Linked DNA regions of Homo sapiens. The protein of the gene in region 7 purifies or fractionates together with the protein of the main gene of each other region. This does not show direct contact. Each region holds a gene or a part of one and is shown on either strand. Other genes may lie near its edges.

Evidence for each region.
Region 1: the proteins of USP43 (region 7) and TRIM56 purify together in Homo sapiens (affinity purification with mass spectrometry; one large-scale study listed by BioGRID and IntAct). This does not show direct contact.
Region 2: the proteins of USP43 (region 7) and ZEB1 purify together in Homo sapiens (affinity purification with western blotting; one study listed by BioGRID). This does not show direct contact.
Region 3: the proteins of USP43 (region 7) and POLD1 purify together in Homo sapiens (affinity purification with mass spectrometry; one large-scale study listed by BioGRID and IntAct). This does not show direct contact.
Region 4: the proteins of USP43 (region 7) and DDX11 purify together in Homo sapiens (affinity purification with mass spectrometry; one large-scale study listed by BioGRID and IntAct). This does not show direct contact.
Region 5: the proteins of USP43 (region 7) and FN3KRP purify together in Homo sapiens (affinity purification with mass spectrometry; one large-scale study listed by BioGRID and IntAct). This does not show direct contact.
Region 6: the proteins of USP43 (region 7) and ATG4A purify together in Homo sapiens (affinity purification with mass spectrometry; one large-scale study listed by BioGRID and IntAct). This does not show direct contact.

Annotation. Positions count from the first base shown.
Region 1 is NC_000007.14:101,084,004-101,088,280, reverse strand, and holds the start of TRIM56 (E3 ubiquitin-protein ligase TRIM56), read right to left. Parts: upstream 2,801-4,277; 5' UTR 2,710-2,800; intron 1,276-2,709; 5' UTR 1,113-1,275; intron 970-1,112; 5' UTR 969-969; coding exon 1-968.
Region 2 is NC_000010.11:31,507,716-31,511,215, forward strand, and holds part of ZEB1 (zinc finger E-box-binding homeobox 1), read left to right. Parts: intron 1-2,957; coding exon 2,958-3,160; intron 3,161-3,500. UniProt on the Homo sapiens protein: Acts as a transcriptional repressor. Inhibits interleukin-2 (IL-2) gene expression. Enhances or represses the promoter activity of the ATP1A1 gene depending on the quantity of cDNA and on the cell type.
Region 3 is NC_000019.10:50,390,847-50,394,346, reverse strand, and holds part of POLD1 (DNA polymerase delta catalytic subunit), read right to left. Parts: intron 1-3,500. UniProt on the Homo sapiens protein: As the catalytic component of the trimeric (Pol-delta3 complex) and tetrameric DNA polymerase delta complexes (Pol-delta4 complex), plays a crucial role in high fidelity genome replication, including in lagging strand synthesis, and repair.
Region 4 is NC_000012.12:31,083,860-31,087,359, forward strand, and holds part of DDX11 (ATP-dependent DNA helicase DDX11), read left to right. Parts: coding exon 1-202; intron 203-723; coding exon 724-810; intron 811-1,109; coding exon 1,110-1,267; intron 1,268-1,273; exon of another isoform or gene 1,274-2,353; intron 2,354-2,366; exon of another isoform or gene 2,367-3,452; intron 3,453-3,500. UniProt on the Homo sapiens protein: DNA-dependent ATPase and ATP-dependent DNA helicase that participates in various functions in genomic stability, including DNA replication, DNA repair and heterochromatin organization as well as in ribosomal RNA synthesis.
Region 5 is NC_000017.11:82,719,706-82,723,205, reverse strand, and holds part of FN3KRP (ketosamine-3-kinase), read right to left. Parts: intron 2,935-3,500; coding exon 2,843-2,934; intron 403-2,842; coding exon 320-402; intron 1-319.
Region 6 is NC_000023.11:108,136,778-108,140,277, reverse strand, and holds part of ATG4A (cysteine protease ATG4A), read right to left. Parts: intron 3,188-3,500; coding exon 3,108-3,187; intron 2,475-3,107; coding exon 2,287-2,474; exon of another isoform or gene 2,201-2,286; intron 2,166-2,200; coding exon 2,087-2,165; intron 1-2,086. UniProt on the Homo sapiens protein: Cysteine protease that plays a key role in autophagy by mediating both proteolytic activation and delipidation of ATG8 family proteins.
Region 7 is NC_000017.11:9,652,017-9,655,516, forward strand, and holds part of USP43 (ubiquitin carboxyl-terminal hydrolase 43), read left to right. Parts: intron 1-3,500. UniProt on the Homo sapiens protein: May recognize and hydrolyze the peptide bond at the C-terminal Gly of ubiquitin. Involved in the processing of poly-ubiquitin precursors as well as that of ubiquitinated proteins.

The DNA.
Region 1 (4,277 bases), on a different chromosome or scaffold from region 7:
GAGAGGATCTCGGCCTCTCGCCCCAGGCTGAGTACCCGGCGGGCGAAGGCGGCTGCGGCCCTGGCCACCTGCTCCCGGCCCTCAAGCTCCGCCAGCCTCTCCCGAGCAGCTTCTTCGGCAGCCTCCACGTGGGCTCGTAGCTGCCCCAGCACCTCCTGCTTCTGGGCCAGCAGGGCCCGGAGGACGCCCTCAGCCGCCTCCTCCACCTGAGTCCCCACCCGGGCCGCCTGCTCCCGCAGCCGGGCTAGCGCCTCCTTCTCCACCCTCCGCGCTGCCTCCAGCTCCACCAGGTTATTGTCCACACCGGCCAGCAGTCCCTCCAGGCCCGGCCTCCGGGCACGCACAGCTTCAGCCAGAGGCAGGCAGGGGTGGTCCAGGTGGGGGTCTAGGCGGCACTCTCTGCACAGCAACTGTGAGCAGGGCTGGCACAGGAAGCGCAGTGCCTCCCCGGGGTGCTGGGGACACTGGGCCGCTTGGCGCTCCCGGGCCTCCTCATCATACCACCCGGCCCTGTAGCCCACCAGGTCCACCACGCGGTGGGTGTGGGTCTGGCGGGTGCAGCGGTGCCCGTCGGCACAGGCCTGGCACAAGTCATCGGCACAGTCCAGGCACCGGGCCGTGGCCGGCCCCCCGGTGCTGGTGCCACCCACCAGGGGACACAGGGCACAGGCTGGCTTCCCGGCACGCAGGTCTCCACAGGCCCGGGCCTTCACCAGGTCCAGCAGCCCATTGACGAAGAAGTTGGTCTTGAAGGAGGCCACACCCTCGGGCGGCACAGGCACTGTCTCGCGGCACTCGGGGCAGCGGACGCGGCCGCCATCCGCCAGCTGTGCCAGGCAGTCTTGGCAGTAGGTATGCAGGCAGGGCAGTGTCTTGGGTGCCCGCAGCTGCTCCAGGCAGATTTTACAGGCCAGGAAGTCGCTGCTCAGGGCCTCCAGGAGGGAGGGCGAGGACCCGTGGGAAACCATGCTGCAGGCAGAGGCGTCAGGATCAGAGTTGAGAAGGCACCTTCACCAGCTCACCCTCTAGCTTCTACCGCCCGTCCTCAAGCCCCACGGATCCCCAGGGCTAGGGGCTGACCCAAATGGCCGGGAAGGAACCTGAGGTCTCACCTGAATGGCCAGGAACTTCCTTCTAGTCTTCTGAGGCCTTGGGCCACTTGCTCTTGAGCTAAGGAGCTGCCCTCCTCCTTCTCCTCCTCCTCCTCCACTTCCGTGTGTACATCCAGCAAACGTAAAAATGTCAGTGCTACTTGTTGGGTCAGACCTGTGAGAACTGACAAGACCAGGAGTCCCTGGCCTTAGCTAATAATCGAATCCTCAGTGTCCCCAGTCCACAGGCCTTGTGGCAAACATGGTGGAAGCCCTCCTGTGTGCACAGGTACTGGGGTCCTGCTGTATAGGGTGCCAGGGTGCGAGGAGCAGGCAGTAAGGACACAGACGGGGATCCCAGTGGGCAGAGATGCCTAGGTCCTGCCAGTTGGGGTAGGATCTTGCAGTAGCTTAGGGGGCTTTAATCCTCCAAGCCCCATACACCTGCCTTCTTTTTATTTTATTTTAGTTTTTAGCAATAGGGTCACCCTCTGTCACCCAGGCTGGAGTGCAGTGGCGTGATCGTAGTTCACTGCAGCCTCAAACTCCTAGACTCAAGTCTTTTGAGTAGTTGGGAGTACAGGCATGTGCCACCATGCCCAGCCTTTTTTTTTTTTTTTTTTTTTTTTGAGACAGAGTCTCACTCTGTTGCCCAGGCTGGAGTGCAGTGGTGCGATCTTGGCTCACTGCCACCTCCACCTGCCAGGTTCAAGTGATTCTCCTGCCTCAGCCTCCCGAGTAGCTGTGATTACAGGTGCGCACCATCACACCCGGCTAATTTTTGTATGTTTAGTAGAAATGGAGTTTGGCCCTATTGGCCAGGCTGGTCTTGAACTCCTGACCTCAGGTGATCCGCCCTCCTCGGTCTCCCAAAGTGCTGGGATTATAGGCGTGAGCCACCATGCCCAGGGGCCCAGCCAGCCCATTTTTTAAAAATTATCACTTTTTGTAGAGATGGGGTCTTGCTATGTTGCCCAGGCTGGTCTCCAACTCCTGGCCTCAGGCTATCCTCCCGTCTCGGCCTTCCCAAAGCATTAGGATTACAGGCATGAGCCACCGCACCCGCCTGGCCTTACACCTGTCTTCTGCTAGACCTGGGGCAGCATCGCGGGTGGTGGAGGCCCCACTTTCTGCATTTAACAGTTTCTAAAGCGGATTCTGGAGCGGGCAGAAAAAACGCTAGGGGAAGGGCTGGTCCCCTTCCCGCTGCTGGCTCACCCTCTGATAGACTTGGCCTTGGCTTATCTCCTGGAGTCCTGTTCTTTTAGCTTTTCCTGCTGAATGCATTCCAGAAACCTCTGGAGGGAGGGAGTCCCGAGCTCCTGGCACAGTGGCTGAGACCTACTTGTTGGGCAGACTAGGTGGAATGTCCCCTTTTCTGGAGCTGGGAGGAGACCTCAGAGAGTGGGACGGGGTCTTTCTTGCGGGGACCTGTGGCCACGGAGCGGGAGGGAGGCGAGTGCAGTTTCCCTCCTGCCCTCTCCTCCTGCCTTCCGGGTGCCTCTTCACGCCCTCCCTTTCCTTCCCTTCCTCCTCCTCCCGCGCTCTCTCTCCACTCCCCTCCCCCTACTCCCTCCGCTCGGTCCTTCCTATAGCTGTGCCGCCCCCCACCCCTTACCTAGCCAGAGCTGATCTTGACCTCTAGGATGGTGAGGGGGCCTGAGGCCTGGAGGCCGCCGTTGCTGGGTGCCTGGAAAAGAAACAAAACTGAAACTAATTGTACTTGTGGTGCAACTTCCGTCCCAGCCAGGGACACACCGACTCGCCTCGCACAGCCTCAGGCCCCGCCTTCCTCCCCACCCGGCCCCGTCCTCTCCCGCCAAGGCCCCCACCCCGGCAGGCAGCTGGCAGGCTTGGGCTGGAGTCCACCAGCCAGGTCGGCCTGTCAGTCCAGCCTCAGGGCTAAGTGTGTGTATGTCACAAACAGGGAACTACCTGAGGGCGGGTTCTCTGAGTAGAGGGTGGAGGGTCACAGGGTTTATTTGTGGGAAGAAATGAGAGCTCATCTGTGATTCAGAGACCAGGGTAACTAGACACATGGCCTCAGGGCGGGTCTGCAGATTTGCTAACACCTCAGGCAGGCAGGTGCCTGCAAAGCTTCAAGAGAGGCCTTTCATTCCATAAACCGTTGCTGAGCTGTAGGAGAGGCTGTGGGGGATCAGGTAAGAAGCCTCTTGCTGAGGGAACAGCACAGGCTTCCTGGAGAAGGCATCAATGAGATGAGTTTAAAGAAGGCGGGAGGATTGCTTCAGCCCAGGAGTTCAAGACCAGCTTGGGCAATATGGTGAGACCCAGTCTCCATAAAAAATTCGCTAGCCGTGCATGGTAGCGCATACCTGTAATCCCAGATACTCAGGAGACTGAGGCAGGAGAATCACTTGAACCTGGGAGGTCGAGGCTGCAGTGAGCCATGATGGTGACACTGCACTCCAGCCTGGATGACAGAGCAAGACCCTGTCTAAAAAATAAAACAGTAAGAGGGCATAGAGGGCTGGAGAACACTGAGAAGAATGTTCCTGTTCCAGGTACTGGGAGCAGCAAGGGTACATCCCCATTTAGGATGATGTGTGTGGAGAGGATACGAGAGTGTTGGCAGAGAAGCCTGCATTTTATCAAAAAAGACAAAAGAATCATTGCAGGAGATTTCCCTCAACATTTCATGAAAAAATAATTTTTATTTTGAGACAAAGCCTCGCTCTGTCGCCCAGGCTGGAGTGCAGTGGTGTGATCTTAGCTCACAGCAACCTCCGCTTCCCGGGTTCAAGCGATCCTCCTGCCTCAGCCTCCAAAGTAGCTGGGATTACGGGCACTCACTGCCACGCCCAGCTAATTTTTGTATTTTTAGTAGAGATGGGGTTTCACTATGTTGGCCAGGCTGGTCTCGAACTTCTGACCTCAAGTGATCCACCCACCTTGGCCTCCCAAAGTGCTGGGATTACAGGCGTGAGCCAACATGCACAGCCTCATTTTATGAAAAATTCAAAGCACAAAGAAGTTGAAAGAATTGCGGTGAACACCCATATCTCCACCACTTCTGTTCTACAATTATCATTTTACCGTAATTAATTCATGACATACCTATGCATGTTTGTACCTTTTTATCCACATGGCGGAATTTAAGTAGGAAACTGAAGCTGTAAGAGCTCACTCTGGCAGCAGCCGAGAGGACAGAAGGGAGCCTGACCT
Region 2 (3,500 bases), on a different chromosome or scaffold from region 7:
TTCATATCCTGATTTGTTTTTCTGGTTCCTTTGTGTTGCTTTTCTGTTTTCTTCTATCTCACTTAGCTTTTATAAGATCATTATTTTTAATCATTTTCCAGGATTTCATAAATTTATTTTGATTGGAATCTGTTGCTGGATAATTATTGTATTTTTTGGAGGTGTCATATTTCCTTCCTTTTTCATGTTTCTTGTATTCTTACCTTGATACCACACATCTGGTATAATAGTCAATTATTCTGGTTTTTTGGATTTGCTTTCATTGGTTGAGTAGGGCACTTTGGCTTTGATTCTGGGTACATGTGGTAGTGTAATTTCTGTATGATATCTTTCGTTATAAATAGTGTGAGTAGGGTCCGTGATTTCCTCGTTGGCTTAGGTGCAATTGTTAGTGGAGGCTGAGGTGAAGTTTGGCTGGGACAGGGATGCCAGGTGGACCATTCCTTGGGCCCTAGCAGTGGTAGTAACGGGCTTACAGTACCTGTCCTTAGACCACAGGGTGGCACATTGACACCTTGTGTTAGCAGGTCCAGTTGGGCTGATCCTTGGAACTCCAGGTGGCTTGCTTGGGTGCTGGTAGTGGCAGTGGTAAGCTGGGCAGGTGGGCAGGTTCTCAGGCTCCTGGGCAGTGGATGTCACTTGGGCAATGGCAGTAGCAGTGGCAGGACACCCTCTGGTTCCCTAGTGATTCACGCTGGTGTTGGCAGTGACTGCAATGGGCTGGGTGAGTCAGTCCCCAGGCCTACCGGTGGTGCATGCAGGAGGGTGCCAGCTGTAGTGATAGTAGCAGGTTGGGTGGACCCAACCTCAGGCCTCCAGGAGGAGTGTTCAGGTGACAACAGTGTTGGACTGGGCTGGGTCATCCCCACGTCCCTGAATAGCATGCTCGGAAACTGGGGAGGAGGTAAGCTGGGCCAGATGGACCTGTCCTCAGGCCCCTTGGTGGTGTGTGTAGGCATTGGCTATCATGGCAGGGGCAGGATGATCCCAGGCCACCAGCAGAGTGCTCAGGTAAGGACATCAGTGGTTGCACTGTGGCCTTCTTACTGGGGAGGGCAAGGTTGCTCTTGGTGGCAGCAGCCATAGGGAGGGAGCTGGGAAATGTGCGCTTTAGCCCCAGACAGCGGCTGTGGATGGGGTAGCCTGTCCTCAGGTCCCTTATAAATGCTTAGCAGCTCAGCTGCTGAGGAAATTAGGGTCGCTGCCAGTGGCTAGCACTTTGTCCCCAGCGGTGGAAGCCCACAGTGGCAGCAGTCTGTTGGGGAGTCTGTCCTTGGGGCATGTAAAAATGTGTGCAGCTCCTCTGCTGGGAGGAGGTATGGTCACTGCCAATGGCTTGCACTTCAGCCTTAGCAGCCGCAACCAGCATTAGTGATGACTGGGAAGGGAGGTATGTCAGTGGGGCTCAACAGGATGTAGTCTGTTGGGGGTTGGGCTCTCAAAATAGTGCTGTGCTGTAGCTACTTAGAACTCAGGGGGTGTACAGATTCAGCATAAGCTCCCTCTCCGGAGCAGCATTGTCATGTGGTCTCCACATACCTCCCTGTGTTAGTCTCAGAGCCCACGATGGTCCAGGGGTTCTCCCATGGCTAGGATTGCAGGAGTCCATGGTGGGAATGTGGACCCCTGGGGGTCTCTCACTTACTCTTTCCCTGCATTGGAGAGCCTTTGCAGGTTGCTTTACTTCCTTCTTCCTTACTTGAGGTGTTTCCTGTCACTTTTCTGTTGAATTCCAGTGTTCTCTCTTAGATGATCTATGTGAAGTGTGATTATTACCTCATTATTTTGGTTTTTCCTTGTAGAGGAGGTGAGTACCAGATGCCTCTATTCAGCCATCTTGAAGCCCCTCTCTCAACATATTTGACCAACTATTTAACATTCAGGTGCTCAGTCTATTATTTGCAGTCTGGTCCTTGAGCAAGACATTTGATTTATATGGACTTGAATAAAGGAATATATGTTCAGAAAGCACTTGGAGATTTTATGAAATTATCTGTGGTGGTTTGTTTTTCTATAGTGAATTCAAAATGAAAATAGAGATGATGTTTACAAAAAGATATCACTTAATTTATTTCATTGAAGAAATGTCAAATATGGAAAACTACTCTTAGTTAAATAATATTAATTGGCAAAATATTACATTTTAGGATTGTCAGGCTTAGACAGCTCCAAGTGTAAAAATAAAGTTCATTCAGTAAACTAATTTATTCAGAATGCCTTTGTTTTCTAAAAGCTATATATATTCATACATATACAGTTATATAGCAGATTTGCCAGTGTATTTCAATAGGGGAAATTACAAGCAGGGTCATGCATGGGATGTGTTTATGTAGCAGGCCTAGATCTGGCCCCCATCAGTCTTTCCTTCCCCACCTTACACACTATTTTTTTGGTCTGAACTCAGTCCTATGGCCACACCTACCTGCAAGGGACTCTTGGAAACATAGTGTGTGTGTACTGTTTACTCTTTGATGATGATGACTTGGTAGTTTCATTTTCAAAATCAGAGGAATAAACATTAAATAAATAATGATACATACCATTGTTACCAATAGACTCTGTTGTAGAGCACAAAATTCCCCTTTAATCTGTATACACTTACAAAGACAACCTACATTCTAATTTTACTTTTGTTTTCTTTTCTAGCTAATCACATGACAAAAGGGAAGAATTATGGTTTAGGGAAAAAGAATGGGACTTGAAGGTCAGACAGCCCGTATTTGAACCCTGACTTCATCATTTTCTGGCTCTGTGACTTTTCTTTTAAGTTATTTAACCTTCCTGGAAACCACTGTTCTCTCTCTTATAAAATAGAGATGAGTATCATTGCATTGTTTTGAGGATCAAATATAAAGTGGGTAGCACAATATCTGGAACATAGCATAGGGACTCAGTGGAAACTTTGGTAATATTTTCTGAATGTTTTAAATTTAAAATATATGATCTTTCTTTTACAGGAACACCAGATGCATTTTCACAATTACTCACCTGTCCATATTGTGATAGAGGCTATAAACGCTTTACCTCTCTGAAAGAACACATTAAATATCGTCATGAAAAGAATGAAGATAACTTTAGTTGCTCCCTGTGCAGTTACACCTTTGCATACAGAACCCAACTTGAACGTCACATGACATCACATAAATCAGGAAGAGATCAAGTAAGTGCAATGACTGAGAGTTCACTAACTTTCCAGATTTTGACAACTCAGCCCTCAATGGAAGGCAAGGATTTTAATATATTTGAAAGTTAAAAGAATGTACTAAACAGTGCTATATCTGCAGCCTTATAAAAGTGAAAATGATTATTTATTTGAGTTATCTGGTCATTCCTGAGATTAAAAACCACATATGAACGTTACTTTAGAGGTAACTCAGTATTTTGTTCAGGTAAGACCCTTTCCATCTTGACTTAATTATTTTGCTTATGCCATAACAGTTAATTCTTCAAGTTTAGAAGATGTTAAATTGCATTCTATTAAAATGTTCAGTGTAGGAAAA
Region 3 (3,500 bases), on a different chromosome or scaffold from region 7:
ACACACCCCTCCAACCCTGCGTGTCCGGAGTGGCCACAGGCTGCCCAGCCAAAGGCTACATTTCCCAGTGTGCGCTGCCAGGAGGGCCACGTGACTAAGTTCTCCCTCCAGGAATGAGAGTGATCATGAGGTGTGCAGCTACTGGGACATCCTCCCACCCTCTTCCCCGTCACAGTGGCTGGAACATGGATGTAGTGGGAGAGCCAACCACAAGGACAGGGACAACACTGGGCTCCCCAACAACCTTCCAGAGCAAAGCTGTCTGCCAACCCTGCACACTTGCCTATCTTCCAAAGCGTTATGTGGAGAAATCAATTTGTATCTTTCTTGGGCCACTGTGTTTTGGGGGCTCCTTGGTACAACAGCTTAGACCTGAAATAAGCATGGAAAAATTCTGAACTGATGGAGTATATGTTAGAAATGTTCAGGGAGGTTCATAACAGACACTCAGCATTAGAGAGGGGCCAGCTCCTGACAGACATGCAACACGGATGAATCTTGAAAGCAGGCTGTGCAGAAGGCAAAGTGCACACTGGGGGAATGAGGAGTGACTGCTTACGGAGTATGGGGTTTTCTGTAGGGGTGATGAAATGTTTTGAAACTAGACAGAGGTAATGGTTGTACAACACTGTGAACGTACCAACTGAATTCTTTGCTTTATTATTACTTTCTCTCTTTATTGAGACAGGATCTCACTCTGTTGCCCAGGCTAGAGTGCAGTGGCATGATCTCAGCTCACTGCAGCCTTGACCTCCCGGGCTCAGGTGATCCTCCCACCTTGGCCTCCTGAGTAGTTATGAAGACAGATGCGTGCCACCATGCCTAGCCAATTGTTTTTTGGTAAAGACGGGTTTTGCCATGTTGCTGAGGCTGGTCTGAAACCCCTGGGCTCAAGTGATCTGCCTGCCTTGGCCTCCCCAAAGTGCTGGGATTACAGGTATGAACCACCACGCCCAGCCATTGTTTGCTTTAAAATGGCTAATTTTACCTCCATAAAAATTGTACAATACCATTTAGACAAAGTTGTAGAATACACTAAAGTGATCTACAGCGCTAGAAATCAGACTAGTGGCTGCTCCTAGGGTAGGAGAGACTGGGAAGGGTATGAGGGGGTTTCTGGGGTGATAAAACACACTATACAGCTGACTGTACACTGGAGACCTGGGCATGGCACGCCATGTAAATGCCACCTCAATTATAAACATAAAAGTTTGGAGGCTCAATTCCACATCTAGGGACGTACACTGTAGATATATTATCACATAAGAAAAACTGCATTTATAAGGTTATTTCCGGAAGCATCGTTTGAAATCCCCAAGGACTGGAAACCACCTAACTGTCCTCCCCCAGGGGGCTATTTAAATATGTTAAGTCCGTTCAATGGAATACTATGCAACTGTGTAAAGGAATGAGGAAGCTCTTTGTGTACTGATAGGGAAGGTTCTCAAAGAGGCATTGTTCAGTAGATAAAGCAAGATGCACAGTGGTGCACTCACAATTTTATCTTTTGTGTTGAAAAACAATGTCTAAGAAAACGTTTACCCTGATTCTAGTCATTAAGAAACAAACAGCCTGGGTGCAGTGGCTCACGCCTGTAATCCCAGCATTTTGGGAGGCCAAGGAGGGTGGATCACTTGAGGTCAAGAGTTCCAGACCAGCCTGACCAACATGGTGAAACCCCATCTCTACTAAAATACAAAAATTAGCCAGGCGTGGTGGTGGGTGCCTGTAATACCAGCTACTTGGGAGGCTGAGGCAGGAGAATCACTTGAACCTGGGAGGCAGAGGTTGCAGTGAGCTGCGATCACGCCACTGCACTCCAGCCTGGGTGACAGAGCAAGACTCTGTCTCAAAACAAAACAAGAAAAAGAAACAAACGAATCCAAGGTGAGGGGTGACAACACTGGTCTGTAATCTTTAAAACTGTCGATGTCATGAAAAAGTAAGTTGCCTGGGCTAGGAGGCTCACGTCTGTAATCCCAACACTTTGGGAGGCTGAGGTGGGATGATCACTTGAGGCCAGGAGTTAGAAACTAGCCTAGGCAACATGGTGAGACTCCATTTCTACAAAAAATTAAAAATTAGTCAATCTCTACAAAAAATTAAAAATTACTTAAGCATGGTGGTGCATACCTACAGTCCCAGCTACTTGGGAGACTGAGGTGGGAGGATCACTTGAACCTGGGAGGTGAAGGCTGCAGTGAGCCATGACTGCACCACTGCAATACAGTCTGGGCAAGAGAGCAAGACATGTCTTAAAAAATGAAAAAGTTGCCATGACAATGTGTGTTATCCTAGGTTAGAACTTGGATTAAAAAAGTAAAATGATGGGCCAGGTGCAGTGGCTCACGCCTGTAATCCTAGCACTTTGGGAGGCTGAGGCAGGCCGATCACCTGAGGTCAGGAGATTAAGACCAGCCTGGCCAACGTGGTGAAAACCCCGTCTATACTAAAAAAAATACAAAAATTAGCTTGTCATGGTGGCGGGCGCCTATAATCCCAGCTACTTGGGAGGCTGAGGCAGGAGAATCGCTTGAACCTGGGAGGCGGAGGTTGCAGTGAGCCAAGATTGCGCCATTGCACTCCAGCCCGGGCAACAAGAGCGGGGGAGTGGGAAAAAAAAAGACCTCTCCCTCTCCCTCCCCCTCCCCCTCCCCCCTCTCAGTCTCCCTCTGATGCCGAGCTGAGGCTGGACTGTGCTGCCGCCATCTCGGCTCACGGCAACCTCCCTGCCTGATTCTCCTGCCTCAGCCTGCTGAGTGCCTGGGATTGCAGGCACGCACCGCCATGCCTGACTGGTTTTTGTATTTTTTGGTGGAGACGGGGTTTCGCCGTGTTGGCCGGGCTGGTCTCCAGCTCCTGACCGCGAGTGATCTGCCCGCCTGGGCCTCCCGAGGTGCCGGGATTGCAGACGGAGTCTCGCTCACTCAGTGCTCAATGGTGCCCAGGCTGGAGTGCAGTGGCGTGATCTCGGCTCGCTACAACCTCCACCTCCCAGCCGCCTGCCTTGGCCTCCCAAAGTGCCGAGATTGCAGCCTCTGCCCGGCCGCCACCCCGTCTGGGAAGTGAGGAGCATCTCTGCCTGGCCGCCCAGTCTGGGAAGTGAGGAGCGCCTCTTCCCAGCCGCCATCCCGTCTAGGAAGTGAGGAGCGTCTCTGCCCGGCTGCTCATCGTCTGAGATGTGGGGAGCGCCTCTGCCCCGACGCCCCGTCTGGGATGTGAGGAGCGCCTCTGCCTGGCCGCCACCCCGTCTGGGAGGTGTACCCAGCAGCTCATTGAGAACGGGCCATGATGACGATGGCGGTTTTGTCGAATAGAAAAGGGGGAAATGGGAAAGGAAAGAGAGATCAGATTGTTGCTGTGTCTGTGTAGAAAGAAGTAGACATAGGAGACTCCATTTTGTTCTGTACTAAGAAAAATTCTGCCTTGGGATGCTGTTAATCTACGGCCTTACCCCCAACCCCGTGCTCTCTGAAACATGTGCTGTGTCCACTCAGGGT
Region 4 (3,500 bases), on a different chromosome or scaffold from region 7:
CTTTGAACAGAAGAAGCGTGAAGAAGAGGCACGACTCCTTGAAACTGGAACTGGCCCCTTACATGATGAGAAAGATGAATCCCTGTGTCTGTCTTCTTCCTGCGAAGGGGCTGCAGGCACCCCGAGGCCTGCTGGAGAACCGGCCTGGGTTACTCAGTTTGTGCAGAAGAAAGAAGAGAGGGACCTGGTGGACCGACTAAAGGTGAGACCTGGGGTATCCGGAAGTGGGAGTACTGGAGGAAACAGGGCTTCAGCGATTGTTCTGGGGCGATTCCGAGACTCAGGCAGTGCATGCTCCCCTGCCGTTGCCGTGCCTCTCAGCTCTTCCCTCAGCTCCTTGGGTCTATGGTGCTGCCGCTGTGCTGTCTTTTTTGAGCTGGAGGTCAGCAGGCCTTCTCCACATAAGGAACTGTTGGTGCCCATTTATTACTCACCTGGGAAAGGACCTGATCATTGCCATTGGCAGCATGGTTCAATGGCTGCAAATGGATCTGATGGAGAGCGTGTGGCTTTGGGAGGAGTGTGCCGCCTTCCGCAGTGAGCAGCGAGGCTGGGACCGGCAGGGATGAGGTCCCGGGAGGGGATGCGGCAGCCCTTGAGTGCTGGCCGGGGAAGGAGAGATGCCCCCAGTGAGGAGGCGCCGGGCTGAGTGGCCCAGACTCCTTAGGAGAGGCCTGGTTTTGGGCTTCCTTGGTGATTTTCCTTCATGTCTGCCTCCTGTAGGCGGAGCAGGCCAGGAGGAAGCAGCGAGAAGAACGCCTGCAGCAGCTGCAGCACAGGGTGCAGCTCAAGTATGCAGCCAAGCGCCTGGTGAGCCTCATTTCTTGGGGGGCAGGATTATGTCCAGGCAGGGTTGCTCTGCTTGGAGGCTCATGGGTGCGTGGTCAGGGCCTTGGTCTCCCCTCCGTGACCCTCACTGGCTATGTGCTCCCGTACAGAAGCTGGGCTGTGAGTGGTTGAGGCGTGGATCCTAGGAGTCGACCTCTCTCCAGCCAGGCAGCCAGGCCTATGTGAATGGGGCGTGGTGTGCTTTGTCTCTGGCATGTGGGGAGGTGGGTACTGGTGCTGAGACTTCTTCCTCCCTCACCACCTCCACTACCCCTGTCCAGAGGCAGGAAGAAGAAGAAAGAGAGAATCTCCTCCGCCTCAGCAGGGAGATGCTAGAGACAGGCCCGGAGGCTGAGCGGCTGGAGCAGCTGGAGTCTGGGGAGGAGGAGCTGGTCCTCGCCGAATACGAGAGTGATGAGGAGAAAAAGGTGGCGAGCAGGTGAGACAGAGGCGGTAGCACTACCCTGCCCCAGGCCAGGGGACACCCTTGAAGACAGCTCTTTCCCTCATGCCACAGATGCCATGAAGCACCTGGCAAGAGGCATGGTGGCCTCTGCCCTCTGCTCTAAGCCGGGTCCTTCCTAGGGTCCATGAGTGCCAGTGGCAGTGAGGACAGTCACCGGCCTGGCCTGTGTCCTCTCAGCTGTCCTCACGGCAGCTCAGGCAGGGCAGGAACATTTGTGTCTGCGCCTTATACACAAGGAGGCTGCAGCCCCACAAGGAGAGACTCCTTGGCTGAGGCCACAAGCCTCGGCAGTGGAGAGCTGGGCTAGAACTCAGCTGGCCTGGCTCTAGATCTCAGGCTCTGAGGCAGCTGACTGCACTGGGTAACCTGTGAGGTGCCAACCATCAAGGCGTCCTTAGCCTGAGCTTTCCTTCTCCCATAAAGCCTCTGTTGGTCCAGACTCAAGGTTTCCACTTGATGAGCCATGAGCTGCTGGGTGACTTAGCCCTGAGCAGGCCACCCAGGCCATTTCGGGCCCACAGGATCCCTGGTCACAGCCCTGTTCCCATTCACACTGGAACCTCACCACCATCCCTGAGTGTCTGCTCTGAGTATGGCACTGTCCAGATGCTGTGGACATAGAAGGGAAGAAGACATGGAGGGGACAGTTAATAGACATGAAAACAAATAGCACCTATGTGAAGTCAGCATGTTTGCCTACAAGGAAAACAAAATGGTGATGTGGATGGGGTGGGGGGCTGCACCTGATGATGAGTCCCGTGTGTCCTGTGACATCCTGGCCACCACATCTGTCGGAGGGTAACTGCAAGACCAGAGACCCTCCATGGATATTCCTGAAGGTTCATCCCCGGCCTTCACAGTCTGTCTGCAGGGCGCCTTCTGATGCCACCTCCAGCCGCCATCCACCAGACGCCAGCTTCCCCGCTGCCCTGAACTTCCTCCAGCGCACCAGGCCTTCCTCTGTCCTGTCTGAGGATTTGCTCATGCAACGTGCTGTGGCCAAACACCCTGCCCTCCTCCCTTGGCAGATGTCTTCCTCTCCTTTAAGGCCTGGCTCAGGTGTCGTCTTGGTGGCTTCGGGTGTCAGCTGCTCTGTTTTGCTCATGCACCTGCTTGTGCTTCTGTTGTTGCCTCCTCTCCCTGGCTGGGCTCGAGCTGCTTCAGGGCAGGAACCACGTCTTTATAGTTTGATGTTCCCAGAGCTGACCCAGTGTTTGGCATAGGGGTGTGCTCAATAAAATCGAGTTGACATGAATGAGCAGATGCTGCCTCGTTGCAGTCTGGTAGTGTAATTCCAGGCTGCGCATGTGAACTTCGACTTCTGCCCCTGCCCAGGGCAGAGACCACCGTGTTGCTTTATGCCTCGCTGGTGAGAGGGGGTCATAAACAGTTTGTGCTCCATGAACCCTTCCTGCCCGCCTCCGAGGTCATGTTTCTGCTCCCTCTCTTCTCCCTTAGAGCCCGTGGGGACAAGGCAGAGAACTTGAGTGGAGATGGAGGTGGTGAATATTAAAGGAACAAAGTGCTCCTTCAGGTCTGGGCAAGAGCCATGGATCCTGTAGGTCAGCTTCTGGGGCTTCCCATGCCCTCACGTTTCAGGAGATAACGTGAGCCTCGGAGGACCTGAGTTCTGAATAGAAAATTTTTGCTCTTCATTTCTTCACACACCCAGCCTCTCAGTGAGCTCCTGCTGGCTTTGTCCAGCATGCGACATAAGATTGAATCCAAGCCTTTTAAGATAGAGCCGCCTGCTCTTTAGTGACCATGAAGCCAAGCCTGTAATAATTACTCTTCTGATAGCCCAAGACAATTGTATTCTGTTTTGTTAGAAAGGAATTTCGAGGTGAACAAAAATGTTTTCTTTTTATGTGATGTTGCCATAGGTAGCGTGTGCCTGTCAGATGGTTTTGTGTTTTCTGAGGAGCATAGACTAGTAGAGCTAGCTCAGCTTCAGGCCATGGGATGCAGGGCTGGCTTCCCTGCCAACGCCTGGCGCTGATGGATTCTTCCCGCATTGCTGGGAAGGGCAGACTGAGGCACTGACACAAGAAGAGTTGTAGCTGGTCATAAGTGACAGCATCCTCTGTTCACTCGATTGGTCAGTTGTAGCTTCATCCAGGAGATGGTCATGGGGTTCCTGCTGCATACCAAGCTCTAGGTGAGGCCACGGGGACTCAGCAGAAACAAGGCCGACCTGGGTCCTCCC
Region 5 (3,500 bases), about 73 Mb from region 7:
CACACAACCAAAAGTGACAAACCCTTGTCATTCCACCCTCTTTGAGAGTTTAGTATACCTAAAACATTTGTTAAATTCCCTCATTTTTACCCACCTTGAAATCCAGCTCCTAACTTGCTGGTCCTCCTCAGTTTCTTCATGCTTACCTAGCATATTAGGTGGGTCAATCTTACGTCAACCTCTCAAACATCAGCAAAGAAAAAATGGTGCAAATACTTTTACTGAAGCTCACAAAAAAAGGAGGGGGGTGTGTCCCCCCAACCCGTGTGTCTGAACAGCTGACCTGATTGTGAAATAGAAGCAAACGCCGTGCACTCACCTGGGGGAGGTATCCACAGCACGTCACCACGTCAAATCCAAACCGGGCCACAAAGGGCCGTTCCTCCTGCCCACCTCCTCTCCCTTGCAAGCAAAAGTAAAAGAAAGGAAATTAGTTCCAAGGGATCCCAGCGCCCACTCTCGAAACTGAGTCACCTTCAGACACGACCTCAGCGAGCTCCTACCAGCTTATGCCCCTGCCAGAGACAAACAGGGCCTGGGTCTCCACCAGCTCACACAACACCCCTAACAGAGCCTGCTCCAGCAGATGTCAGCATCAAAAACACTAGGAGCCTGTGGCCTCCAGCAGACGTCAGCATCAAAGACACTAGCTGCTCCCGAGCAGGGGCACCAGAGGACACACACAGGACAGGCAGCCTGCGGGCACCTCTCAGGGGACCTGTCTCACATCCCAACACGCGGGGGTGTGGGGGAAGACCACACTGTGTCAGGAAACAAAGGGGAGGATGTTCTTAAAGAGGAAAGGCACTTTGGGAGGCTGAGGTGGGCGGATCACCGGAGGTCAGCAGTTCGAGACCAGCCTGCCCAACGTGGTGAAACCCTGTCTCTACTGAACATATAAAAATTAGCTAGGCATGGTGGCAGGCGCCTATAATCCCAGCTACTCGGGAGGTTGAGGCAGGAGAATCACTTGAACCCGGGAGGCGGAGGTTGCAGTGAGCCGAGATCGCTCCATTGCACTCCAGCCTGGGCAACGAGAGTGAAACTCCGTCTCAAAAAAAACCATAAAAATGGCCGGGCACAGTGGTTCATGCCTGTAATCCCAGCACTTTGGGAGGCCAAGGCAGGTGGATCACCTGAGGTCGGGAATTTGAGACCAGCCTGACCAACATGGAGAAACCCCATCTCTACTACAAATACAAAATTAGCTGGGCATGGTGGCGCATGCCTGTAATCCCAGCTACTCAGAAGGCTGAGGCAGGAGAATCACTTGAACCCAGGAGGCGGAGGTTGCGGTGAGCTGAGATCGCGCCACTGCACTCCAGCCTGGGCAACAAGAGCAAAACTCCATTTCAAAAAAAACAAAACAAAACAAAACATAAAAAACATAAAAAGTAAAAAACAGGCCAGGCCCAGTAGCTCATGCCTGTAATCCCAGCACTTTGGGAGGCCGAGGCAGGTGGATCACGAGGTCAGGAAGTCGAGACCATCCCGGCTAACACGGTGAAACCCTGTCTCTACTAAAAATACAAAAAATTAGCCAGGCGTGGTGGCAGGCGCCTGTAGTCCCAGCTACTTAGGAGGCTGAGGCAGGAGAATGGCGTGGACCCGGGAGGCGGAGCTTGCAGTGAGCAGAGATCATGCCACTGCACTCCAGCCTGGGGAACAAAGCAAGACTCCTTCTCAAAAAAATAAAATAAAAATAAATAAATAAAGAGGAAAAAGAATCTGCCCCCAATCCATCAGAAAGGATGGCTCTCAGTGGCAAACCTGGTGCCATGTGTGTCAGATAAACTATTGTGCTTTGAAATAATCTCAGGCAGGGTGCAGTGGCTCACGCCTGTAATCCCAGCACTTTGGGAGGCTGAGGTGGGTGGATCACCTGAGGTCAGGAGATTGAGACCAGCCTGGCCTACATGGTGAAACCCCGTCTCTACTAAAAATACAAAAATTAGGTGGGCACAGTGGCATGCACCTGTAATCCCAGCTACTCAGGAGGCTGAGGCAGGAAAATCGCTTGAACCCAGGAGGCAGAGGTCACGGTGAGCCAAGATTGCACCACTGCCCTCCAGCCTGGGGGACAAGAGTGAAACTCCGTCTCAAAAAAAAGAAAGAAAGAAAGAAAGAATCTCACTCCTCTGCAGTCTCCCTAATTCAAGGAAAATCCCAATGGACTAAACTCCGTTAAGACTGGAAGAGACAGGACAGGCGACCTGGGAGGCCTCTCAGTGGATCCTCACCACACAGGCCGCCTGGGTGGATCCGTCATGGACCCTCACAGAACAGACTAACAGCATGTCTCCGTCTCCTACAGCAGGCCCCTGGTGATCTGTTCCGATCATCAGCAAATCTCCCCACATTTACCATGTGGGCTGCACACGGATTCCAAATGTCAGCAGATTAAAATACCGGAAAATTCCCTCGATCCTGACAGCGCGTTATGCTCTGGAAAGGTCAGACATGATGGCTGTAATTCTGAGCCTCAAGTATGACTGTTTTACAGGAACAGACCCTGGGTTAAAGGTCTTGCCTTTTACAGACAGCCAGAGAGCCTCTGCTTACACTCTTCTGGGGAACGAGAGGTAAAAGTAACTGTAACACTAGGGGTGTCTTGTGTCCAGCAAATGTTTTCATCTTTCAAATGCATTTAGGACACAACAGACGCATCACAGTCACTGTGTTCAGTGCACCGTGAGATGCGGCTCAAGGCCGACATTCCCTTGCTCTGCCATCAGCCCACGTCCGACCCTCCCACGGCTGCTGCACGGCCCCCGCTCTGAGCCCACACCGGCTGAACGTCCTCCTCTAGGCGGGAGCACCCGTGGCCCGCGCAGTGCCATACCCACTGTGCCCGCCTCCTTCAGGCGCATCTCTCCAAGCTTCTTGTTATCAAGGTGTAAATCGGCCAGCTGGGCTCCAAGCTTTGCAGCATGACTGTCAAATCAAACGACAGCAACTAAACAGATGACACACAGAATGGCAACACACCCACTGCTCAGTCTCAGGGCACATAAAGAGGGTCAAACTTTTTTATTTTTTTGAGATGGAGTCTCGCTCTGTCACCCAGGCTGGAGGGCAGTGGCACGATCTCGGCTCACTGCAAGCTCCGCCTCCCAGGTTCAAGCGATTCTCCTGCCTCAGCCTCCCGAGTAGCTGGGATTACTGGTGCCCGCCACCATGCCTGGCTAATTTTTTTGTATTTTTAGTAGAGGCAGGGTTTCACTGTGTTGGCCAGACTGGTCTCAAACTCTGACCTCAAGTCATCCGCCCACCTTGGCCTCCCAAAGTGCCGGGATTAGAGGCGTGAGCCACCACAGCCGGCTAGTAGGTCGGACATTTTGAGGACAGAAAGTAGGTTCTGGTGAAGCAAGAGGGGGATAAAGGTGTTGATTATTTGACGATCTTTCCCAGCCTCATCCAAGTTTGCAGTGGTTTTTTTTTCCTCTTTTTTGAGACTGAGTCTCGCTCTACTGCCCAGGCTAGAGTGCAGTGGTGCGATC
Region 6 (3,500 bases), on a different chromosome or scaffold from region 7:
CCACATCTTTTTAATGAGTAGTCAAACTTCACAAAAGCTACTCTGACCCAGTGGCCTCAAGAAACAGGAGGGCTACATCAACTTGGAGAAATTCTCTGTAGGTAACTTGGGATAGGGAGGCCAGGGCACCCAGGAATCACACACACTATTCACTGAGATTCCTCCAAAGTTATTTTCTAATCTGTTTCAAAGCTGTCCTCAAACACTGTTGTGGACTGAATGTTTATGTCTCCCTAAAATTCATATGTTGAAATCCTAACCCCCAGTATGATGGTATTAGGAAGTGGGGTCTTTGGGAGGTGATTTAGTCATGAGGGTGGAGCCCCTATGAATGTATTAGTGCCCTCATAAAAGAGACTCCAGAAAGCTCCTTTGCCTCTTCTACCATTTGAGGACGCAGCAAGAAAACAGCCATCTATGAACCTGGAAGTGGGCTCTCACCAGACACCAAATCTGCCAGTGCCTGGATCTTGGACCTCCAGCCTCCAGAACAGTGAGACATAAATTTCTGTTGTTTATAAAGCCACCTAGTCTATACTATTCTGTTATAGCCGCCTGAAGAGACTAAGTCATGCATGAGCAACTGGAAATCTATTTTTTGCAACATTTTCTTTGAACCCAAATGCTTAGGAACAGAGGGCATCTGATTTTGCAGAACTCCAAACACTAGGTTTTATACTTAGAAAAATAAAAGCCTTTACAGGCTCCACGTTTTCCATTTAGCTGTAATTCTTGGGCTCAACCAATAGATGGCAGCATTAGAGAGAGCAGAGGCAGCTGTGCAATCCCCACGCCCCGCTCCACACCCCCCAACCTAAAGAGAGGAAGAAGGGGCTGGCAAAGGAAATAGGTATTGGGGTAAAGCAAGGTGCAGCCACCTTTCAGTGACTGTCCTATATGCCTGGCTCTTTGATGAACACTTTACTGTAAGATGACAACAGGGCGAGTCAGGCATTAGCCCTATTTTACATAAAAGGAACCTGAGACTGAATATTGATATCTTTTTCCTGAAGTCACACAGCTAGCAAGTGGGGGATTGGCATGCAAAGCCACGTGTGTCTGTTCCCATCCCACCTCACCTCCCTGAATGTCCAAGAGGAGATGTGTTGGGGAGGATAACTAAGGCCATCTCCACCCTGTCCTTTGCACGTGCCCTCATGCCATTCCCTTGTAACTCCTGTAGCTCTCCTTTGTCTGTCAACCAATCTGACCTCATAACTTTCCTGAGGCCAAGTCTCAGACCATTCCACCCCTGCAACAGGTGTCCTGTACCAACTTTTCCTGGCCACATCACTCTCTAACTTATGCTCTTCAACACTAACCAGGTGTTTAGGCCCTGGGTATGCAAAGTGTGGTCTGTGGACCAGCAGCATCAGCACCACCTAGTTAGAAATGCAGAAACTCAGGCCGCACCCAAGACCTACTGAACCTGCACTCCAATAGGCTCTCAAGGTGATTCATGTGCATGCTAAAGCTTCAGAAGCACTAGGCTAGCTTACCTTGTGTACCAAGGACCTCAGATGTCTCTGGTCACAGCTAGTGAGTAAAGAGACTGGGTTTCCAGAGGTGCCTTCCTATGCAGGGAATGTTGGGTTGCTTGCTCGGGTCCACATTAAGAGGTTAGTGGTTTTAAGGCTTAGCCCCCATTCTCGGGAAAGGGGTACTTCTGTCTTTGCCTCCTCCAATTCCCAACCTGTCACAGCTCTGAACAATGAGCCAGCAGGCCCTAATAAGAGAGATATTGGCAAAGCCAAGGGATTGAAATTCCACCACCCTGGGCCCCACAGGCAGGAGAGAGACATGCTGGAGCAATGCTATGACCTTGGGGCTATCCAGTGGGAAAGCAATGGAACCATCTTATCAAGAAGCAAGGAAGGCATTGAAATTGGACCTGCTTTCCATCAGGCACACAGAAACATCACTCTCCATCAGTTAGGCCGGAGACAGAAGGAGCTGACCAGAGGCCACGGCATTCCTGGGCTAGACGGGAACCCACTAACTGGAATTGCCTGGTCTCCCATGCAAACCTTGTCCCCACGCCCTCCCCTAGCCCACGATGACTTACTTGTGATTCCTCCTTTCTTACCTAAGAATCCTATGAAATAATACGCGTTATTTGGTTTTCCTCCTAATGCCCCTAAAGACTGTGGCATCTTAAAACACTCCTGGAGAGAAAGACAATGCAAGATTCTCAACTCACTTGTGGACTGCTGCTCACGGATCTCTGTGCTGAGATGGCGGTGTGATGGGCAGGCAGCAATGGGCTCAGGGAAAGAAGTGACTTACTTTGAATGCATCAACATAGACAGGATTGATTTGGTTTATGCCCAGGCGAAGGGGCACAATGAGCAGCAGGGGTTTCCAGGCTGAGCAGTAGGCAGAGGTGCCCTTACTCTGGTTTGAAGCAGTTAAAGAATCGGGAGGCCTGTCACCAGCTGTGTCAGCACTCAAGGGAAGGACACGGCACATTTTTTCTAGAAATGGAAGAACAGAATATTGGATAAGTAAGGAGTCTTCAGCCCTAGAAGATATTCCAATATCAAAACTAAGGGGAACCTCACATGCCCCCCACCCTGCCTAGAAGGCCCTCTCCTCTGCCACCAGGGCTCAGCTGACTCCCCGCCTGCACAAAGCCCAGGCCATTCCTCTAGGGCTCATGCTCTTCATTCTGGCCACTGGGTACTTGTTTAGCTCCCAATAGGGATTCTGGGCTTATTGGAAGAATCTCATTTCTCAAGTCTGCCAGGGCCTTTGAGACAGGGACTGTATCTTTAGGTTGCTCTCACTCCTCAGTGCAGGAATCACACGCCTGGACAAGGGTGAGCCTCCATGAAAGATCTGTTGGTGGTTGAATAAATTATTATACACACTTTGTGTTTTCTGCAGGGAAGGAGTGTGGTACCTCACTGAGGAGGAGCAAGGCCCCTCTAATGGTGTTCTCCCTCTCAGAAAGCTGAAAAGAAAGAGAATCAGAGCCCTGTGCTCCCCTAAGCTCCCCTGCCCTGGTGGGGAAGACCAGAGAGACTCTCTTGAGCCCCAGAATACTGAATGGTGAGGGAGGAACTCATCACCCATCAGCTGGGAAGTTAAACAGGCTGGTAACTCACTGATATCTTCAATGACCACTGTGTTATCCATTGAAACATAAACAGCCAAGGAATTCCATTCGTCAAATAAAGCAAGTTTTCTGCAAAGCAATGTATAATGAAGTCACAATTTGGGAAGATGGAAATATCAGCAGAAAACAGTACAATTTATGCCCAGTGTTCCTAAAGTCACCAAACACTGAGCCATAGAAAAGCTGGTGTTCAGGTCAGCTCTGGCTTCTTTGCCAGAGCTCTGGGATGCTCCATGTCTAGAGACCTTGAGAATGCCACAGAGTCACTGTATCTGAACCTCAAAAAGAAGTTTCTGCTTTACAACCTGGAGAAGTCTACTTCACAAAATGACGGGACACCTACTGGGGAAAAAAGAAAAGTTACCCATGCATCTGCTCTCAA
Region 7 (3,500 bases):
TGTTAAAAATTATCAATGTTTGGGAAATAAAACATACATACAGGTAGAGTTATGCCATGTTGAAGGAGAGAAATAACCAAATCTAGGGCTGAGCACAGTGGCTCATGCCTGTAATCCTAGCACTTTGAGAGGCCGAGATGGGAGGACCGCTTGAGGCCAGGAGTTCAGCCTGGTCAACACAGCAAGCCCTTAGCGCAAAAAAAAAAAAAAAAAGAAAAGAAAAGAAAGGAAAAAAAAGATGTGAGATAAGTAACCAAATATTACAGTTAATTCTTCCCAAGCTAGTTAACTGTTTGGGAACTGCTTTGTGCAGTTCTAGTTATGTTTCCATAGACTTTCTTTTTTTTTTTTCCTTCTTTTTTTGAGATGGAGTCTCGCTCTGTTGCCCAGGCTGGAGTGCAGTGGCACCATCTCGGCTCACTGCAAGCTCCGCCTCCCGGGTTCAAGTGATTCTTCTGTCTCAGCCTCCCGAGTAGCTGGGACTACAGGTGCCCGCCACCACGTCCGGCTAATTTTTTGTATTTTTAGTAGAGACGGGGTTTCACCTTGGTAGCCAGGATGGGTTCAATCTCCTGACCTCGTTTCCTGCCTGCCTTGGCTCCCCACAATGCTGGGATTATAGGTGTGAGCCACCACCCCTGGCCTGTTTCCATAGACTTTCTAGGGGAATGTCTTCTGTATTCATCAATAGGTTATTAAAAAAAAATTCCAAGAAATACCTGCCAAATACTTTATAACTGGAAAAAGACAAAGAACAATGTTCACTGTTAAAAAACTTTGTCATTTACAAATGAAAATAAAACAATTGCTCATGATCCCATTATTCTATGATAACCATTTGCTACTATTTTGCCATGTATTTTCTGCTCTTTTATTTTTCTATCTATAAATATATACATAAAACAATCTCAAATATGTATTTTTGCATTTTTTCTTCTATGACCGGATTATTATTTTCTTTATCATTTGTATTTCATCAGTCATAAATTTTAAGGCCATCTGAGTATGTCATAAGTTTTCACCCAGATAACTTTGATATATACAGACATCTCTGGTTGTATCTCTCATTTCCTAAGGCAAAATCACCAAAAGTGGAATTGCTGTTTATGGAGAGGGACATTTTTAAGGCCCTATCTTGTCTTGCTTCTTGAAGTTGTCACCTCCTTTCTGAAAAGGTTGTCAGGTACTATAGCCAGGCTAAGATGAAGAGTGTCAGGCTTAAAAGATCATCATGATTAACTGGAGAGGAATGGATTTCACATGGAAGGAAGAACAAAAGCAAAGGTCTAAGCCAAGTGCAGTGGCTTACACCTGTAATCCCAGCACTTTGGGAGGCCGAGGCGGGTGGATCACCTGAGGTCAGGAGTTCAAGACCAGCCTGGCCAACATGGCGAAACCCCATCTTTACTAAAAATTCAAAAATTAGCCAGGTGTGGTGGCAGGCCCCTGTAATCCCAGCTACTCAGGGGGCTGAGGCAGGAGAATCATTTGAACCCAGGAGACCAAGGTTGCAGTGAGCCAAGGTCGTGCCATTGCACTCCAGCTGGGCAACAAGAGCAAAACTCCATTTCAAAAAAAGAAAAAAAAAAAAAGTAAAGGTCTAGACTGTAGAAGTAGGAAAGAGTGTTTGGGGCAGCTAGGTGGATTACTTACCTGGAGCTTTGAAACATGGAATGATATGGTTTGGGGCTGAACGACAGAGGGTGCTTGGACTATTTGGTGGTGAGCAGGAGAGTAAGGAACGATTTGGAGTCAGAGCATGACAATATTCAGCTGAGCTATAGGAAAATTGGTCTGGTCTACCATGAAGTCAGTGGGTTGGCAAGGGGAGAACCTAGGGGCTGGGTCCCTCCTTAGGTAGATATTGTTGTCTGGGTCAGCTGTAGGTGAAACTCAACAGTTGGAATGAGACTCTTCTATAGGGGAAGGGTAGAGACATTTGGGAACCAGCATCCAGAATGCTTAACAGCTGACCGATATGAAGGAGAACCTGAAAGATGACACCTACATTAAAAGGATGAGCTGGTTTTAGAGATTTTGAGTTGGAAGGGCCGGCTGCTCACCCAGAAGAGAATGTTGGTACAAGAAGATAGGTTTGAGGGTTGTTTGGGGGTAGGGTTGCCAGATGAAAAATATTTACCATGCCCAGCTGACTTTTAATTGCAGATAAAAATTGAATAACTTTTTAGTGTAAATACGTCCCAAATATTGCATGGGACATATTTCTACTAAAAACATATTCATTGTTTATGTGAAATTCAAATCTATCTGAGCATCTTGTATTTTTATTTACTAAATCTGGTAGCCCTACTTGGGAATCAACATGCAGAGAAGCCTGGGGGAAGAATCCAAACTAATGTGATTGACGTAAAGACTCAGAGCCACACTTGGGGAAGCCGAGGCGGGCGGGATCACCTGAAATCAGGAGTTCGAGATCAGCCTGGACAACATGGTGAAACCTCATCTCTACTGAAAATACAAACATTAGCTGGGTGTGGTGGCAGGTGCCTGTAATCCCAGCTACTTGGGAGGCTGAGGCAGGAGAATCACTTGAACCCATAGGTGGAGATTGCAGTGAGCTGAGATCATGCCATTGCACTCTAGCCTGGGCAACAAGAGTGAAACACTGTCTTAAAAAAAAAAAAAAAAAGACTCAGAACCAGCATTTCAGTTAATTAAATCTTGCATTTTTGCTTTGTCTCATCCTAAAATCTCCTTTATTTTTAGTTTTATTTTTTTGAGACAGAGTCTCACTGTGTCACCCAGGCTGGAGTACAGTGGTGCAATCTCTCCTCACTGCAACCTCTACCTCCCGGGTTCAAGCGATTCTCCTGCCTCAGTCTCCCAAGTAGCTGGGGTTTCAGATGTGCACCACCACGCCCAGCTAATTTTTGTATTTGTAGTATAGGCAGGGTTTCACTATATTGGCTTGGCTGGTGTCGAACTCCTGACTTAAAGTGATCCATCCGCCTCGGCCTCCCAAATTGTTGGGATTACAGGCATGAGCCACTGCACCTGGCCTCTAAAGTCTCCTTTAAATCTCAAGGGAAAATTAAAAGAAAGAAAGGAAAAAAAAAAAAAAAAAAAAAAAAAAGCCCAGACTGCCTGATTTGATTGGCAGTGGTAAGGATTGTCCTGGTCCTCAGTCTTATTAAAACCAGTCCCTTTGGCAGGCATGAACAGAGAACAGACCTGTGTGGGACGAGACTGGAGACTTGGCTCTGCAGTCTAAGAGTGGGTCCCACGGCCATCACGTGCTGTGTGCATGTGCATGTGTGGACACACAGACAAGTGATTTGCTTACACCCAGATGCCCACATGCTCACACATGTATAGCAAAAGTCCCTGGAGAGATGCTGAAGGAACTGCTAAAAGTGGCTGTCCCCTGAGAAGGGGTACCACGGGATGAAGGCCAGGTAGAAGGAAGACTTCATTATCATCCTTTTCTTATTGAATTATTGTTTTTTAGTATGTGCATATATTACTCTTTGCAATAAACT